3 linked regions of the Homo sapiens genome follow. The protein of the gene in region 1 purifies or fractionates together with the protein of each later gene. This does not show direct contact. Each region holds a gene or a part of one and is shown on either strand. Other genes may lie near its edges.

Region 1 (3,652 bases):
AAAGATTTCATGAACAAATTTCAGTGCATCCATAGGACGGAATAATATGTAACTATTGAGGGTGTCAGTACATAGAGATATGTCGACATGCAAAGATGTACTTTGCTATAGCAAGTGAGAAAAAAATCAGTTTGTTACACATATACACGAACAGAATCTGCTCTTGTGTTAGCTGAAAATATGTAGAAAATATAATCAAACTTGTTTCTGGGGATTTGTAAATGAAGTTTTTCCTTTTATCTGTGATTTCTGCAATGAACATCTGAACTTTTAGTTTAGGTTCATTAGTAATGACATAATCCTTGGGAAGAGAAGGAATATGCTTCTTGCATAGATGCAAATAATTTCTCACATTCTATTATTTATTTTTATTTCTGTGGTTGGCTATCTACTGTGAACTTTTACCCTCTTCAGAAGTAGAGGGATTGTGTTTACCTGTTCCTGTAGATTTTATTGTATATAGATTTTATCACATAATTACCTTTTCATTATATATAGATTAACATGTAAAAAGTATGAATTAATCATTTTAGTTGAGTTATATATTTATGAAAATTAAAATAGCAAATATAAATGATATTACTATTGCAAATGTATTGCCCTACTCTACAGGAGTTTTCTTTAAAAATATTGAACTCCCAAGCTGTGTTCATCCATTGTTTTCAATCCGTTTAGTCATCAGACATAAGCCAGACGCCTATTATGGGGCAGGCATATTCTACTATCTCTCAGGATCCTTCCATCTTTGAAAACATTTATGTTTGCCTGCTGGGCTTGAGCAAGCTGAGAGATTTAAAATTGGGGCATTAGGACTTAATCTCAATTGAAGCTTCTCCTCCCTCCTTTCAAACAGAAGCATTTCTGAAGGTAGAAAATAGTAAAAGACAACCCTTAACTGCCCTTTTGAAAATGTATAAGTCTTGGATAAAGACTGTTTTAGTTGTTTTAAGAACTAAAATGTGGTACATAAACAGCATGGAATACTATGCAGCCATAAAAGAAGGAACGAGAGCCTGTCCTTTGCAGGAACATGGATGGTGTTGAAAGCCATTATCCTTAGCAAACTAACATAGGAAGAGAAAACCAAATACTGTATGTTCTCACTTATAGGTGGGAGCTAAATGATGTCAACACACAGATACCTAGAGGGAAGCAACACACACTGGGGCCTATCAGAGGGTGGAGGGTGGGAGGAGGGAAAGAAGCAGGAAATAGAATGAACGGGTACTGGGCTTAACACCTGGGTAATGAAATAATCTGTACAACCAACCCCGTTGGTGCACGTTTACCTATGTAACAAACCTGCACATCCCGCACATGTACCCCTGAATGTAAAAGTTGAAAAAAGCTCCACAAATAGTTTCATAAATCCATTTTAAAAAGAGAAAATTTATAACAGTCTTAAATCCTAATATGAATGATTGGAAATATCTGATGTACATACATTGTATAAATCTAAGTATTGAAAAAAATGAGCCCATGCTATTCATTTCAATTCCAAGTTTTGTTTGGCTTAAAGTTTATTGAAAACCAAAGTAAGAATTGGTTTATTTTAGAAATTTGTTTTTGTTTTCACTTCAGCTCTCTTATTCCATAGTACTTTTAAGAACTAAAATTTAAATGCTGGTCATCTGACTGGAACCGCCCCAGACCTGTTACATTATAACATATTCTACTTAATGTAAGGCACCAGAGATTGTACGATGCCCCATTATTTTATGTCTCAATAAGAGAATTATTTAAATGCCACCAATTATAGTAAATCATGAATTGTAAGTGGTATTTCAGTGGAGACAACATGGAGACAATGATCATCTCAGAATCACTAAAATACAATGTTAGCTGTAATATTTAAAACACACCTGAAAGTGTAGGTATAATTGTATCATCTCACTTAATTCAAATGTTGTCTTTAGTGGTATTAGTAAAAATCATAATATCTAACAATTATTGAGCTGTTATTTGTGTTAGGAACTATTCTGTATCTTTTGTGCCGAGTCTCATTTAAGCATTACAGTGGTTTCCTGTGAGAAAGCTACTATTTTCATTCCTATTTTATTGATGAGGAAACTGAGACCCCAAAAGGCTAAGCAACAGCCAGAAAGTGACAGAGCTTCAAGTAGGATTCCAGCCCAAGTTGAATGTCATCCAAGGGCTATGCTCTTTGTATTCATATAGGCTGCTCTTTCATTAATACAGCGAGTAATGAGAGATAATAAATCGTGTGCTTTTTTCATGGGAAAGTTAAATGTTTGTTTTGAAGGCACAGTAATAGCAGGCTATTCAGTGTTTGTGATTATGTGTGTCATTGATATGGCTGTAGCTAGTGCACTACAATTTCCTAAAAAGTCTTCTCACCCTCATAGGACTGCTCTACATCTGGCCTCTGCCAATGGAAATTCAGAAGTAGTAAAACTCCTGCTGGACAGACGATGTCAACTTAATATCCTTGACAACAAAAAGAGGACAGCTCTGACAAAGGTATGCAGTAGCCAACTATGTCAGCGTGAAGTGGGTTTGATTTCAATACATAGCATAAAAATGAGTTTTCTCCTTTAAATATAACTAGTTGGTGAAAGCTGTGGAATGTTATTTTGAAATCCTAGGATTTGTAATTTGTTTATGGTGTAATACTGACAGGCCGTACAATGCCGGGAAGATGAATGTGCGTTAATGTTGCTGGAACATGGCACTGATCCGAATATTCCAGATGAGTATGGAAATACCGCTCTACACTATGCTATCTACAATGAAGATAAATTAATGGCCAAAGCACTGCTCTTATACGGTGCTGATATCGAATCAAAAAACAAGGTATAGATCTACCAATTTTATCTTCAAAATACTGAAATGCATTCGTGTTAACATTGACCTGTGTAAGGGCCAGTTTTCCATATTTGGAAGCTCAAGCATAACCTGAATGAAAATATTTTGAAATGACCTAATTATCTAAGATTTTATTTTAAATATTGTTACTTTCAAAGAAGCATTAGAGGGTACAGTTTTTTTTTTTAATGCACTTGCGGTAAATACTTTTTTTTGAAAACACTGAATTTGTAAAAGGTAATACTTACTATTTTTCAGTTTTTCCCTCCTAGGATTCTTTTCCCCTAATGAATGTAAAATGGCAAAATTTGCCCTGAAATAGGTTTTACATGAAAACTCCAAGAAAACTTAAACATGTCTCAGTGAATAGAGATCCTGCTTCTTTGGCAAGTTCCTAAAAAACAGTAATAGATACGAGGTGATGCACCTCTCAGTGGCAAGGCTTAAGATATTTCTGATTGCTCATGAGGCAGAAGTGGAAAGGGAAAAAGAGAGCAGTCAGAAATATCAGGGCCAATTTGGAAATTAGGCAATAGAGGGAAAAGACCATGAAGAGGTTGTGTGTGTGTGGTGTTGTTGTTGTTGTTCATTTATTTATTTCCTTTGTATGGTGAGACAAAGTTCTCTTTGATTTTAGAGAATGACAGTTTTCAGTTTGGGAGAGGGAGTTAGTGGGTTGTAAACTGCCTAGAGATGAATTTTAGGAGGCCTCTGAGGAACCAGATTGGCAGTGAATAGGTGGGTAATGTAAGGGGAAACCCTTGAGCAGGGGGAATATCAAGTAATTAACTGACTTAGTATCCTCTTCTGGTAGAAGTGGCCAATT
Region 2 (4,083 bases), on another chromosome or scaffold:
ATTAACATTTAGGTTTTCATTTTTAAAGCATTAAATAATAGATCCATTTGATTCTGTGCCACTTGCCAATGTTTAGATATAATAAACACTTTGACTTTTGCTTAATACTGCAGAAGCTGCAACTGGAAAATTCTATCCTGCGTTGTAGACAATGGATATATTCCACAGGAGTTTTTTGTTCTCAGTTTTAAGCTCTGATTTCCAAATCATGATTTAAAAAGTATATCATGCCCTCTGCACTAAGTTAGGTGATCACAGATGCAAAACCTACATCCAGCTTTGGAAAGAGTTCCAGAGAGAGAAGCCCTAGCAATGGTTTGTTTTTGGCTAACATAGCACATTGTATTATTTTTCAAACAAAAGTTTGAAATCAGCTTATACCTAACCTGAGAACGAGGGACAGATGTTTTTCTCCGGCGTTCTGTTTGCTGTAATTTGTGCTGAGAGATTCACTGGTCGTTTTAAAGCTGTTTTTACGCCCCCTCCTTTGTGCGACCTCCACTTGCGCTATGGGCCTTGCCCGGTGGGAAAGGGAGCGTGCAGAAGGGACCCCAAAACGCACTCTCGGGGATGCTCCTGAGTCAGTAAGCAAGTGATTTCCCCCTGCGGGTTCATCTAGTTCCCGTTAGCTCAACCCCGGGTTTAGAGGAAGAACGAAATCCAGAGAGTGAAGCTGGGAGGTGAATGCGTGGCAAAAACTCATGGAAAAAAAAAAAAAAAGCAGTTTCAAGGACTATGCTGCAACCCGCCAAGCAGTGGCTTTCCTCAAGCTGCTGTAACCAGCTGCTTCTCCCTGCTCCTCGAACTTGCTTGAGTTCCGAGGGAAGCGCCTGCTTTTTGGGTGCGTGGCCAGGGTGGGTGGTGGCCAGGATTCGAAGGCGACAGTGAAGGGGAGCGAGTTCCCGGGATGGAACTTGACGTGGAACCCGGGGTCCCATCGAGGGGCTCCCCACGGCCTCGGGTGCTTGGGCTGCGACTGGTTTTTCATTTGGCGTAGGCGTGGGGGGTAGGAGGCAAAGTGCCAAGGGCTTTCCCGGGCTCACAGTGTCTCATGGTCCGCCACTGCCTGCGGTGGCGCTCGGCTTGACCCCGGCTCGGGCCCCGCACGCGGCGGCGGTCAAAGGGCGTGCTCGCGGCAACCGCAGGGCACGCGGGCCGGCCGCGCGGGGGGCGGGGCGGCAGTGGCGGTTGCGGGGCATGCGCGGCTCCGCGCGCGGCTTCTCAAACATGGCGGCGGCGGTGTGAAGCTCGGTGCCGGCTCGCGCGATCGGTGGGACAGAATTTCGTTGTTTTCACCGACGAGACTGGAGGTACGTGGTGATTCCGGGCCCCGTAAGGAATGGAGAGGCGGAGGTGTGTCCCGGACCCCGACCGTTGTCCGTGGGCGGGCGGGTAGAAGCCATCAGCGCGCGTCCCGTGCGAGGAACGCCCCCTTACGATCCCGCCTATGTCCCATCTCAGTTCGGCTTCGCGATAGGGTATCCCGCCCCCGGCGCCTTCCGCGGACGCCCTTCAGCCGATCTCGCGTTTCCCCTCACGCCGCCCCGGGGCCTTTTCGCCGCCGCGGGGTTTGGGCGCCCGGCCGATAGCTTCCACCCGTCCCCTCGCCTGCAGCGCCGACAGCGCCCTCCGGCGCATCCTCCCTGCCGTGGGTAGGGCCGGGCTGGGGCCTGGGGGGCATCACGGTGGGTGGCGGGGCGGAGGAAGGAGGTAGACTTTGCCTGGTCTGGGCTGAGATAACTTTTGGAGTTTGGGAGGGAAACGTCGGCCCGGAAGGATGCGCCTGTGGCGGCGTGCGGGCGCAAATCCTGGTGCCAAGGTGCGCGCCGCCGGGCTCCTGGCGGGGGCTGGGGGCGCCGGTGGCTCACCCTAGCGGTGCAGCGGGACCGGAATGCGCGTCCCGTCCGGGGCTGGCGGGGAGGCGAGGAGGGGCTCTAAGCCTCCTGAGGGGCGGAGAGGCGGCCTCGCGGCCTGACCGAAAAAAAGTTGCTGCCGTCACTTAGAAACAGTCTCGAAATGGTTTCTTACCTTTCTCGCTTTTTCCACCTGTATCGTGCTTGCGCCCCATCCAGGTGTGAAGAGCCGGAGGGAGAATGGGTCTAGGCGAATTTGCTCGATTTTGCGCCTCAAGGTTGTACATAGATAGCTTCCTGGGCCGACTTGTAATTCGGCTCCCCCAAACCCCAAATGTTTGGGCAGCACAAGTATTTACTTACAGGCTCCCATTTGAGACTATTTATTTTTTAAAAAGAGGTTGTTAAACATTTGTCAAGCATCACAAAGTGTGATTGCAACTTGAAATTTGCTTCTTGTTTGTAAATTAGGAGATTAACGTTTATGACTTACTTTAGGTCTTCTCTGGAAAGTTAATGGATCGATTAGTGGGGGTAAACTGAGGCAGGGAAAGTGAATAAGTTGCTTATGATCATATGATTTACAAAAGTATTGGAGATAGTTGTTTTTTTCCCTAAAACAGCTTCAGATGCTGCTACATTTTAATGCCCCCAGAGCTATTCATATTTCTGTTTTGAGGGAAAAGTATTTTAAGATGTACAACATTTATGGAGTACAGCTGCCTATGATGAGCAATTGTTTTATAACAATGGTTCATAAACGCATATTTAATTCTTTTCAATAACAGCGAGGGAAATGTTTTTCAATAATGACGATTTTGCCTTTCTTTTATTTTTCTTAATTACTCATTAAATAAAATATTTCCAATTACGAATGTGCTTTCAGGCTGTTTGTGTGTTTTTTTTTTTTTTTTCTATTTAATGGGAGGAATGTGAAAATAAGCTTTTGGAAATGAATCCAGTGGGATTTTTGAGAAAAGATTGAGTTTATGAGTATTCACCTGATGCCTTGTGTTTAGCTTTATCTATAACCTTTAAAACAGTTTGATAGAATGTAAAGAAAAAACACCATTTAAACTGGCTTTGAAAGTTTTGAATGAACTTTATATATACATCATGCAGCCATATGAACTTCTTAAGGATGTATACTTGTTTACCCCAGAGAACCTGATTTGCTTTGGAATTGGTAGTTGGAAAAAAGATTACTGTAACTCTACTGCATTATATGTGCGGGTGCTTTAAAGTTGATAGTGTCATAACGTTCAAAAATCATTACAGTCAGTCTAAAAAAGGTGTATCAGTTTTTCTCATGAGGTGGTTGATCAGTCCTTTTGATTTATGATTCCATCAACACATCTTTATTAAGCACCTGTGCTGTCTTTACTATGGAGTTCAGTTTATTCAGAGCCCACTACGTGTGCTAATTTCAGGGTGTTTAAGGCTTTCCACCCATAGTTTATTCCTGAAAATTTCAGGGAGTTATAGCTAAAAAAATCAATACGAATGTAGAACAAGTATTCCTTTCATTCAAAGGGCGAACTCGAGAAGTCAGTATTTTTGTCATAATTCTCCAAACAAAATTCTGAGTGTAGCTGCAAACTATTTCTGACTTACGTGATGTTAACTTTGTGATTTTTTGGTTAGGATTATATAAAGCTATATATTTTCATGAGATTATTTTCTGGTTCAAATAGATAACATACTGGTTAAGCTTGAGGGGAAAAATGAGTTGCTGGTATAAATGGAAATCAATATGTGCTCTGAAGATTGGGTATTTTTTAATACTAAGCAATTTCTATTACTAAGTAGTTTAAGCTGTAATTAAGTTTTAACTGGTATTTTAAAGCACTTTGTTTTTTCAAAATGTTGCAGAAATCTCTGAGCTCAGAAATAACAAATAAGGGTTATGATCCTCAGCTATAAGCCAGATGTGACTCTTATTTTCTTTTGGGCTTGTTCCTTTTTAGCTGCCTGCCTGTTCCTCCCAGATGCTTCCTATCACCCCTCTTCCTGCCCCTGTTCCCTTTGCTGTTGGTGTCTGTTTCCGCATCAGTGAAATGGTCAGGGTAATCCTTTGCTGCTTCACTGAGAAATAATTAATGATGGTAAAGTGCCTTGAAAAGGCTGAGTAAATACCAAGTCTTTTGAATTAACTTGATGTAGCCACTTGTTCCATTTAAGGAAGAGCCAAATCCCAATTTTAGTTTGAGCTCTTGGGGGTGCGAGAGAA
Region 3 (3,652 bases), on another chromosome or scaffold:
ACTCAAACCTGGGTCTCTTATCAATGCAAATAATAATGGTATCTCATGGATACGGTTGTTGTGAGGATTAGAGTGGTAAAATATGCAAAAGCCTTAGCTAACATTTAATGTCTCATGTAGGGCGAGGATTCAGTGAATGGTACTTAATTATTATGTTTCTGTTTTTTTCCTGCCCTAAGCTTTCTGGAAAGAGGTACATTATTATCCTGATAGCTATCTGTTCACCTACACCAAAGAATTCATTAATTTGATTATTCTTTTTCCATTCCGAGTGAAAGTAAACATTACTGGCTGGGGCTTAGACACATTGTTTCTGATGATTTTTAAATTAATGCTTCCAAGTGATTCATGCAGTTTAGGACCTTTGACTAGTGTTTAAGTGCTTTTTATTTGTAAGTAAAGAGGCAGTACTGTGGATAAGGAGCGAGGATGGTACGAGCATTAGCTTGTTTAATAGTAGCATGAGGAAATCTTAAATAAAAGGAATTTTACTTGAAACTGTTAGTAAACTTTGTATAATAAATTATTTAGCATTCTGTTCCTATCAGCTAGTCATATCTGGTTTTTAATCTACCATTTTTATGTCAGTCCCTTTAATGTTTAGTTTTCTTAAATCAGGGAATCTTATGTGTCATTTATCAGTTTCCTCAAATTCAAAGTTCTATTTAATGAGCATGGGTTAGGGAGGATGGAGAGTTGGAATACTCTATTCTCTTTTAAATAGACAAACAAAAACAGTAACGATGGGAAAGAGAGGGAGCACTTTGTTAAAGTTGGCATTGATGCCCTGTTTTGTCTTCCATGACTTATTCCCTTCACAATGATGATAAATGAACACATGTGAATACCTCCTCTCAATAAGACTGCAGTAGCTCCACCATTTTAAATAACTTACTGAGTGTGGAAGTCAGGTAGAGTAGACATGCACAAACTCATGATATATATGCCAAGTGAGTTTGTATGATACAGTGGAAAAAGGCCTGGAGTTAAGGTCAAAAGATCAGGTTTCTTATCCCAGTACTAGCACTTGTAGGCGCTGTACTCTTAAGCCTCATTTTTTTTTTGTCTTTTTTTAATCTGTGATCAAGGATGAAAGATAGTACTTGCTGTTGAAAACATCAAATAAGATGAAATGGTTTTAATAATGAAATTAATGCTGTTGTGTGAATACTAGTTATTTTCATACTAAGGAGCAAGAATTCATTGAGTCTCAAAACAGGTTGTGTTATTCTGTATACAGTATTATTTTACATTAATGCTACGAGCAGTAACTGCCCATTGTGTTTTCTAAAAATCATTTAAGTGATCTTCAGTGAAAATTATAATCTCCACTGAAATGTTCTGTGTTTAGCCTATCTTAGGTTTTTATTTTCTTTCTTTTCAAAAGCCTTAAGTACATGTAAACCATTTTAAAATGCCCTTTTAATCCTCCTCAAAGGACTTGCTATGCCTCAGGGTTGAAGTTTTGCTTCCTTGGGTCAAGCATAACATGATTCCATATGCTAGAATCCTAATTTGAAGGAGAATATAAGTTTCCCAACCTTATTCCCTCTTCTAGGGTAAATAAACTACACTTCAGTTCAACAGTGTAGAACTTGGTAAATTTGAGAACAGGCCTCTGTTTCCCTTAAGTGATAGGAACTTTCTGTTCTCTTTCTCTAACTTCTGTAATAACGTGGAGCTGTTGTTCTTTTCGTATGGTTTATTCTGCAATCCTAGAAACCTTTTTAAAAACAATTCTATTCTGTTAGAAGTCAAGAGCATAGTTACCCTTGGGGGTGGGAGGTTGTGACTGGGAGAGGGTAGCAGAGGAGTTTCAGGGTTCAGTAGTGTTCAGCTTCTTGATGTGGGTGCTGATATATAGTTGAGTTCACTTTGAAAATTTATTGAGCTTGTAGGACTTAAGGTCTTCTCTGTGTATATATTATACATATTCCAATAAAATATCCCAAAATATTGACCTCACCTTGGCATTATCCTCAACAAGTCCTCCTTCAGTTGGAAGGTTTGTTTTCTTCTCTGTACTTACAGTTTGAATTAATCTGCTATATATTTTGTTTTAATTAAGTAAACTTAGGAAAAACCTGGGTCTGCTATGTTTTAAAATGCTTATAGAAAAGAACCTGAAAGGAAGAAGGGCAAAATCACTTATTCTAAGTGGTATGATTATTTTGATTTTTTCTTTATACTTGCCTATGCTTTTCAAAATTTCTGTTATGCGTTTATTACTTTTGTAGTCTATGAGAAAAATCTGTACTGTCGTGAAAGAAGAAATAAACTGTATAAACTTGGGGCTTTTCATAATAGGATATGAAAATATATTTAGAAAACATCATTATAGGATAACAGTTTTTTTCACATTTGTACTTTGTTACAGATATGCTAGTCTGTATTTTTGCTGTGCTATTGAGGATCAGGACAATGAACTAATTACCCTGGAAATAATTCATCGTTATGTGGAATTACTTGACAAGTATTTCGGCAGTGTGAGTAGTATTTTATTTTAGGAAATTGAATGCCATAGTATATTTTGGAACCTTTTCTCTAACAAGTTTATTTTTTGGTTGTCTTGGGGATTCTAACCGCGGGAGAGGGTGGGAATGACTATTTATTAGTAGAAATTATTAAGTTGTCCATATTGGGAACATGCAGAGCCCAGTCTTATTTAGCTTGTAGGAATATGTTTTCAAGTACTTGAGATTTGGAAATTAAGCTTACTTAAACCAGTGATACTTAGTCATTTTTAGAAAGAGTTAAGATTGATTCACTCTAGTTCGATTTTATTCACTACCTGATAGTGAATAAGCATCTTCTGCTTCTGCAAGTTTTAACAATTTTTTCTTTTCTTTTTTCTTTTTTTTTTCCTTTTCAGGTCTGTGAACTAGATATCATCTTTAATTTTGAGAAGGCTTATTTTATTTTGGATGAGTTTCTTTTGGGAGGGGAAGTTCAGGAAACATCCAAGAAAAATGTCCTTAAAGCAATTGAGCAGGCTGATCTACTGCAGGAGGTAAGCTACTTATTCTCTTCACTAGGCACTAGCATGTTTTGCTCTTGCTGGGGAAGTCTCATTCATCATTCTTACAGTTTCAGAAAGTACTCTGAAGCATGCTTGTCATGTAGTGTCCATCCATGTGCAGTTTATTGACTGGAATATGTGTCAGTCACGTCAACTCAGTTATCTATGGATGGATGGTTCAGTTTGGAGATGGTCTATCGGTCAGGCCTCTTCCCAATGGCCCTTTTTGGACCCTAAAACACTGGAGTCTAAACCTTTAGAGGACAGACTATTTGAAGAAGGGAAAAGATTGGCTGAAAGTAGCAGTAAGTTGAGAACTCTCCATCTATTGCTTCAAATTGTTTAAGATAACCCCCTTTTTCATTAGTGTAGATAATCAGGAGTTGACTATGAGATTATGACATTTTAATTCCAAATTGGCTCATATTTTTACCTCATGTCCATTAAATGCAAAAGTAGCCAAGCAAATGATAGTGTTTTCTAATTATACTTTTTGTAGAAACTTCCAGGTTTTTTTTGTTAGCAAAACTAAACAGTATTTGCATTTCTCTTTGCTCTTCTTAAATAACAAACCATGTTCTGTCAAACTGCATTCTTGTCTTACCTCCATATCCCCAGATGTGTAACTCCCTT

What was found.
Region 2: the proteins of POTEG (region 1) and SCML2 purify together in Homo sapiens (affinity purification with mass spectrometry; one large-scale study listed by BioGRID and IntAct). This does not show direct contact.
Region 3: the proteins of POTEG (region 1) and AP1S2 purify together in Homo sapiens (affinity purification with mass spectrometry; one large-scale study listed by BioGRID and IntAct). This does not show direct contact.

Annotation. Positions count from the first base shown.
Region 1 is NC_000014.9:19,427,704-19,431,355, reverse strand, and holds part of POTEG (POTE ankyrin domain family member G), read left to right. Parts: intron 1-2,366; coding exon 2,367-2,481; intron 2,482-2,640; coding exon 2,641-2,814; intron 2,815-3,652.
Region 2 is NC_000023.11:18,351,819-18,355,901, reverse strand, and holds the start of SCML2 (sex comb on midleg-like protein 2), read left to right. Parts: upstream 1-1,213; 5' UTR 1,214-1,310; intron 1,311-1,625; exon of another isoform or gene 1,626-1,652; intron 1,653-4,083. UniProt on the Homo sapiens protein: Putative Polycomb group (PcG) protein. PcG proteins act by forming multiprotein complexes, which are required to maintain the transcriptionally repressive state of homeotic genes throughout development.
Region 3 is NC_000023.11:15,844,737-15,848,388, reverse strand, and holds part of AP1S2 (AP-1 complex subunit sigma-2), read left to right. Parts: intron 1-2,377; coding exon 2,378-2,486; intron 2,487-2,872; coding exon 2,873-3,010; intron 3,011-3,652. UniProt on the Homo sapiens protein: Subunit of clathrin-associated adaptor protein complex 1 that plays a role in protein sorting in the late-Golgi/trans-Golgi network (TGN) and/or endosomes.